Linked DNA regions of Homo sapiens. The protein of the gene in region 1 purifies or fractionates together with the protein of each later gene. This does not show direct contact. Each region holds a gene or a part of one and is shown on either strand. Other genes may lie near its edges. The genes, in order: NOX5 and PDP2.

Region 1 (3,825 bases):
TACAGGCATGAGCCACTGCGGCCGGCCAGACGTTCCTAAGTCTTTAGACAAAAACTTAATTCTTTTAACCAATTGCCAATCAGAAAAATCTTTGAATCTACCTACGACCCGGAAGCCCCTGCTTCCAGCTGTCCCACCTTTCCGGACAGAACCAATGTACAACTTACATGTATTGATTGATGTTTTATGTCTTGCTAAAATGTACAAAACCAAGTTGTGACCCAACAGCCTTGGGTATATGTTCTCAGGATAGCTTGAGGGCTGTGTCACAGGCCATTGGTCACTCGTATTTGGCTCAGAGTAAGTATCTTCAAGTATTTTATAGTTTGACTCTTTGTTGATATATTTTATACACACACACACACACACACACACACACTCAAATACATGCCACACATATATAGCATAAGACACATGCCTATAAAGAGGTCAAACAGAGAAACAGAGGTCAAATAACTGGCACAGGATCACCCAGCAGGCACGAGGCACTTTAGAAAACCATGGAAGTGCTGTCTGAGGGTTTCTTTTCACTCAGTAATACCAGCGGCTCTGAGAATGCTTGCTAGAATTCACACTCCCAGGGCCCAAACCTCAGAGCTTCTGGTCCTGAAGATCTGGGGCTGCAGAGAATGTGCACTTTCAACTCTTGAGATGATGCAATTGTGGGCGGTCCATGGACCGGACCGCACTCATGGAGCCCCAGAGGCGCCGGTTGCTCAGGCATCCTAGGGAAACTCCAACTCCCATTTGGGTTTCAGAGAAAGAGGAACAAGCAGCAGGTGGGATTCCTAGGGATTGGCAGGGAGAATGGGCAAGGAGGCTGCAGGGCCAGGCCTGGGGACCGGGTACTTGCTCAGGCAGGTGAGAGGCAGCTGGCGGAGTTGGTGTGAGCCAGCAACAGACTCTTTAAGTCTGATAAGAAACATTTACACTCTGTTGTCTTTGAAGCCTGCTACGTGGAGGCTTTACCTGAATGATGAAAGCTTGGTCTCCATAAGCCCTTATTTTAACCTAGAAAACGCTGCTCTGATAGGGAATTACAGTTAGCTGGGACACAACCTAGGGAGATGCTGACAGTGCACCTCTCCCACCAAGTGAGGACCACCCCCACCCCCACCCCCACAAGACTCTTTTGTGTTACTGGACGCCCAAAGCTGGGAACCGTGCTTCAGAGGGCGGATTCTCATCTGATCAGTGGGCTGTACCTGTTGAGCCACTTGCCTCACAGGTGTGTTCTGGGATGAGGTTGTGCCGTGTAAAATGTTTGTTTTACTAAGGTATTAATTTGCTGGGGGATAAGAGGCCAGTAACACCCTTGATATCACCTTTTGGAGAAGCTGCCCTGGGGAGCCACATCCCGGGCCAGAGCTCACTGATGGCACAGGATTAAAGGTCAGGGGATGGAGAGGGATTTTTTGTTTGCTCTATTCTATTCTATTTTATATTTTATTATGTTATAAGGGATGGGTTCTCTGTTGCCCAGGCTGGAGTGCAATGGTGTGATTAAAGTTCACTTTAGCTTCGACCTTCTAGGCTCAAGCCATCCTCCCACCTCAGCTGCTAGAGTAGCTGGGATCACAGGTGCATGCTATCATGCCTGGCTAATTTTTTAAATTTTTGTAGAGATGAGGTTTCACTATGTTGCGCAGGCTGGTCTCAAACTCCTTAACTCAAGCAGTCCTCCTGCCTCAGCCTCCCAGTGTATTAGGATTACAGGCATGAGCCACCACCCCCGGCCTTGCTTGCTTTTTAATTGTCATACCCGGCAGTAACGAGGTACTCCCTCCTCCTCCCGACTGGGATGGTCAGAGGAGGCCCAGTGGAGAGTCAGGACTTTGCCCACTGCCCACCTGCCATGGAAGGGGGCAGGGAGGGATGTAGGTGTGGCTGTGAACCGGCAACTTGAGAGAGTCTTGTGGTGGAAAGTTCTGTATCTTGACTCTATCAATGTCAGTATCCTCTTTGTGATATTGTACTACAATTTTGTGAGATATTACAATTGGGAGAAACGGAATAAAGAAATCTCTACATTATGGCTCATACCTGTATGTGAATCCATAATTATCTCAAAATGAAGAGTTTTCAAAGATTATCACAAGAATGGTGTATGCTCATGGATACCATCAGATCAATCATACTGAGGCGTAAAGCAATACAGAACTGAAATCCTCTTTCTCCCCTCCAGTCCTGCCTCTTTAAGGACCAGTGCTGACAGCCTGATGATTCCCTTCCACACAGTGCTACTGTATTTATTCAAATCAATTCACACCTATTATAGATAACGTGGGCGGGCTTAGCTGTTTTGAATGGCAATCTAGTACACAGTGGTGGATGATGGATATGGGCCATTATGCAGTAACACTTTTATTTTTGTAGGATACATTCCTAAAAATTGAATTGCCTGAAAGATAGTACAATTCATGTTCTCACCAGCACTGTTTATATTGGATATTACCAATCTTTTGATTTTTGGCATTCTGATACCACTTCCCCCAACTACAAAAGATATAATTGTTATAAATCCCATTTCCCCAGGCATGAGAAGTGAATTGAACATCTTTTCAAATGTTTATCAACCAATATAAGTTCTCTCTTATGAATTGTCCTTTTATATCTTTTGCTACTTTCCATTGCTGGTTTCTGTTTGTTTGTTTTTGCTTCTGTCAAACCTATAGGACTTCTATGTTAAAAGAACACTAACACAGCTGCAATTTATCAATACCTAATAAAAGCATTTACTGTTATTGTTGCCCTTTTAGTTGTTGTTATTTTATAACAGGTGTGACCATTCCATCATGCTTATTGCAAATATTTTCCTTCAGCCTATTGCCTTTTGAATTTGTTGTCTTCTGTCATGCAGAAATTAATTTTTACATATGCAGATCTACAGATCATTTTCCTTAATGTTTTTGGGATCCCTATCTTGTGCCCCTACTTAAAGATGATACAAATTTCCTATAATTTCTGCTAATTCTCATTATTTTATTTATTTTTACATTTAGGCATTTATAATTTGATCAGAAAATGTAAATAAAATAGTATACTGTAGTTATCTAATTATTTTATTCTGTGTAGACATTTTGCCAAAAGCATTTATTTAATTATCCAACTTTTAATAACAATTATAAATACAATTTTTTAAAATTTCCATTTGTAACTGCTTTGGCTAATAAGATAGATGGTAAAGATGTAAATAAATATGAATATATATATATAGATATCAATTTTTATATGCATATAAATATAGATAGATATAGATCATTGATTTTGGTCTGTTTCCCTTGAGCCCAGAAACTAGCCATCACTAATACCTAGTATTTGGAGATTGAATTTAATGCATTAAACTAGAGAAACTAAATAAACATTGCAAATATCATAGAACAAGAGAGAAAATTACTAGTTTGTAAACTAGGTAATTTCCTCCCATTTTTCTTATAGTTTTAATTAAGAATGAATTTTGAACTTTATCAGGTGCTTCCTTAGCATTTATTGACATAATAAAAACTATTTTTCTTCTTTAATTTGTTGATATCAAAAATTACGTTGATAGGCGTCTTAATAATGAACCATCCTTACATTACTAAACTAAGTTCTAACTAACTAATTAGGTTCTAACTAACTAAACTAAGGTTGGGTTTGTTTTTTTTTTAAAGTGACCTTCTAGATTTAATTCAGTTATATTTTAGTTAAAGCTTTGTATAAGTTAAACTTGTATAGAATTTCCTTTTCATATGCTCTTTTCATTGGATTTGGGTAAAGCTTGCTTTGTAAAATGAATTGGGAATCTTACTATCTCTTTCTATGATCTAAGATGGTTTACCATTG
Region 2 (3,825 bases), on another chromosome or scaffold:
GCGGATTGTGGACTTAAGATTCAACCTCTATCTGGAGAGGTGAAAACACAAAGGCTTAAGGACAACAGTTTCTAACCAAGTTTCTCTGAATCCTTTCCTGAGAGGTGGTGGGCAGGAGGGAGGAGTGAGACTTATCAGATGGGACGCTTGCCCCAAGACTGTGGGATAAACCACCATTGCTAGTCCTCAGGAATTAGACCATATTTAGTATAGGAGTTGGGGCAAAAATAAAAGTGTAATTTGTAATGGTTTCTGTGGGCTGTAGACTCTTTGTATTTACTTGGAAATTCAGTTATGTGGATCCATTTTGGAGATGAATTTCATCTCATGAGTTGCTGTGGCATTTAAACAACAGGAAATGTGTCCCTAAATGGAAACAAATATAATCCCACAAAACCAACAATTTTATTTGCCTCTACTACGTCAGGCAGAATTCTTCAATTAAGTTGAACTACATTTGTTGATCCCTTTTCTCATCTTACCCCTTTATGCCACCTACTGAAAAGAAAAACAAATAGCTAGGTTTGGTTTCCTGTTTTTTGTCTATGTCCCAGCTGACATTCAGTCAAATGTTGGGATACTTCTAATTTGGTGGTGTTTCTTTGTACATTTTTCAGTGCAACTGTTTAGTCATGTGTTTTCATCTAAGAAATTATCTTTTGAATATTTAAGCCTTGATCCTTTTATTCTGAAACCATTAATATTCCTTCTTGGCTGGGTGCAGTAGTTTACGCCTGTAATCCCAGCACTGTGGGAGGCCGAGGCGGATGGATCACCTGAGGTCGGGAATTCGAGACCAGCCTGACCAACATGGAGAAACTCCATCTCTACTAAAAATACAAAATTAGCCAGGTGTGGTGGTGCATGCCTGTAATCCCAGCTACTCGGGAGGCTGAGGCAGGAAAATCACTTGAACCCGGGAGGCGGAGGTTGCGGTGAGCCAAGATCGCACCATTGCACTCCAGCCTGGGCAACAAGAGTGAAACTCTGTCTCAAAAAAAAAAAAAAAAAATCCATCTTATCTCTTAGTCCGTCCTTCCTTCCTTCCTTCCTTCCTTCCTTCCTTCCTTCCTTCCTTCCTTCCTTCCTTCCTTCCTTCCTCTCTCTCTCTTTCTTTCTTTCTTTCCTTCTTGACAGGGTCTCCCTGTAGCCAGGCTGGAGTGCAATGGCATGATCTTGGCTCACTGCAACCTCTGCAGCCCAGGCTCAAACGATCCTCCTGCCTCAGCCTCCCGAGTAGCTGGGACTATGCACCACCATGCCTGGCTAATTTTTTTAATTTTTTGTAGAGACAGGGTTTTGCCATGTTGCCCAGGCTGGTCTCAAACTCCTAGACTCAAGCAATCTGCCCACCTCGGCCTCCCAAGGTGCTGGGATGATAGGCATGAGCCACCGCACCCAGCCTATCTCCTAGATCTTGAATCAAAAATAAAATGTAAATCACTTCCATTCTGCTAGCATGAGGGTTTGTTGCTAAAATTGAGGATTCTATCTGACGTTTACTTTTTGTTGTTTTTTGAGACAAGGTCTTGCTTTGTCGCCCATGCTGGAGTGCAGTGGCATCATTATAACTCACTGTCAAACTCCTGGACTCCAATGTTCCCTCCCCTTTTAGCCTCCCAAGTAGCTGGGTCTACAGGCATGAACCATCAGGCCCAGATAATTAAAAAAACTTTTTTTGGTGAAAACATGATCTTGCTATGTTGCTCAGGCTGGTTGTCTGGCATTTTCTTTGTCCTTTATTCTTTATACTAGCTAAACCCTGGAGTATCCTTGAAGCCTTTACTGGCATACAGAGTACCTGAATCTTACTTTGGAGCCTAGCATGGGTCATAAATATATCTGATTCATTAACCTGTGAGACAGCTGAGAGAACACAGACTCCTTACCTGTATCTCCAGGCATATCTGGTTTTTCTCTGCCTAATAGATTTTCCTGCTTTCTAGTTAGTAATATTGAGAAAGAAGAAAGGCTTATTTATCATTTGCTTTTTTTCCACTGTGAATCATCTGTTCTTTCCATGAACATTCTGGGGAGCACCTCCTGATTAAACTCCTGTCTCCCTGACCACTATCCTGCTGTCATTGGACTTCTTGAAGCACATGGGCTACTGCCCCAGGACACTGGGATTTGAGAGGAGTTTAGTGGTAATTGTCAGGTCTTTCAAAGCATTTATTATTCCTTTTATACGGAGATTTCAGTATTGAGACTTAAAATGAACTGAAAAATGAGATTGAACATTTAATATTTTGGATGTAACTTTTGAAGAAAGTATGCTTTGGTGCTTAAAATTGTATATGATTTTAGGTAAGAAACTTTGATAATATTGGCATAATTTAGATTTATTTTCTTTCTTTTTTTTGAGACAGTCTCACTCAGTCGCCCAGGCTGAAGTGCAGTGACACAGTCTCAGCTCACTGCAACGTCTGCCTCCCAGATTGAAGTGACTCTCGTGCCTCTGCCACAGAGTAGCTGGGATTACAGGCATGCACCACCACACACCGCTAATTTTTTGTATTTTTAGTAGAGACAGAGTTTCACCATGTTGGCCAGGCTGCGAACTCCTGAGCTCAAGTGATCCTCCCACCTCAGCTTCCCAAAGTGCTAGCATTACAGGCATGAGCCACCACACCTCACCAGATTTTTAAAAAATATATAACTGCATCTCTCTTGATTCTGGGGCTTGGTAAAAATGGATAGATAAGATAGTATTCTAAATTCAAATTCGTGGCTAGGCACAGTGGCCCACACCTGTAATCCCAGCACTTTGGGATTCCAAGACAGAAGACTCACTTGAGTACAGTATGAGACCAGCCTGGGCAACATAGATCTTGCCTCTACAAAAAAAAAAAAAAATAGCCAGGTGTGGCACATGCCTGTAGTCTCAGCTGCTTGGAAGGCTGAAATGAGAGGATCTCTTGAGCCCAGGAGGTCTAGGCCAGAGTGAGCTGTGATCGTGCCATTGCACTCCAGACTGAGTGACAGAGTGAGACTGTGTCTAAAAAAAAAGTTTGAATTAAAAAAAAAAAAAAAAAAGTCGGCTGTGCACGGTGGCTCATGCCTGTGATCCCAGCACTTTCGGAGGCCAAAGTGGGTGGATTACCTGAGGTCAGGAGTTTGAGACCAGCCTGACCAACATGGTAAAACTCCATCTCTACTAAAAATACAAAAATTAGCCTGGAATAGTGGCGCATGCCTGTAATCCCAGCTACTTGTGAGGCTGAGGCAGGAGAATCCCTTGAACCCAGAAGGCAGAGGTTGCAGTGAGCTGAGATTGTGCCATTGCACTCCAGCCTGGGCAACATGAGCGAAACTCCATCTCAAAAAAACAAAAACAAAAAACAAACTCAAATTAGCATGATAGATCAGGCTACTTAGATTCAGCTTTCTGAGATGTTATTTGTTAACATTAAGGCTAATTTATTATAATGAAAATGTAAACTTTGAGGTATGTTAATATATAAACATCTTTTTCCTTTGGCCTAAAAGGTCTTTAGTATTCAGCACACTGGGTAAAGTTCAGTTTAGACACAATCAAATTGGCATCTTTTAAACATAAGTGAAATATAGAGAGCTTGAACTTGAGTTACTTAAAGAAGATACAGTATAATTAATTATACAGAACAAAACAAAGATGTGTTTAGAGTGACTCTGGCCTGACTCTTGTCCATCAGCCCCTAGTAGCCTATCTTCAGCCTTTGGGAAGTCTTAACTTCCCAGGTTAAACTAGAATATTCTGGAACTGAGCTGTCCAAATTTCATCTTAAAGTGGATCATTTGACTCTGAAACACGATTCTCATGGCAGAAAAAGCCCTGGTGTTTCC

What was found.
Region 2: the proteins of NOX5 (region 1) and PDP2 purify together in Homo sapiens (affinity purification with mass spectrometry, with the first as the bait; 2 studies listed by BioGRID). This does not show direct contact.

What each region holds. Positions count from the first base shown.
Region 1 is NC_000015.10:69,017,425-69,021,249, forward strand, and holds part of NOX5 (NADPH oxidase 5), read left to right. Parts: intron 1-3,825. UniProt on the Homo sapiens protein: Calcium-dependent NADPH oxidase that catalyzes the generation of superoxide from molecular oxygen utilizing NADPH as an electron donor. May play a role in cell growth and apoptosis.
Region 2 is NC_000016.10:66,886,959-66,890,783, forward strand, and holds part of PDP2 ([Pyruvate dehydrogenase [acetyl-transferring]]-phosphatase 2, mitochondrial precursor), read left to right. Parts: 3' UTR 1-3,825. UniProt on the Homo sapiens protein: Mitochondrial enzyme that catalyzes the dephosphorylation and concomitant reactivation of the alpha subunit of the E1 component of the pyruvate dehydrogenase complex (PDC), thereby stimulating the conversion of pyruvate into acetyl-CoA.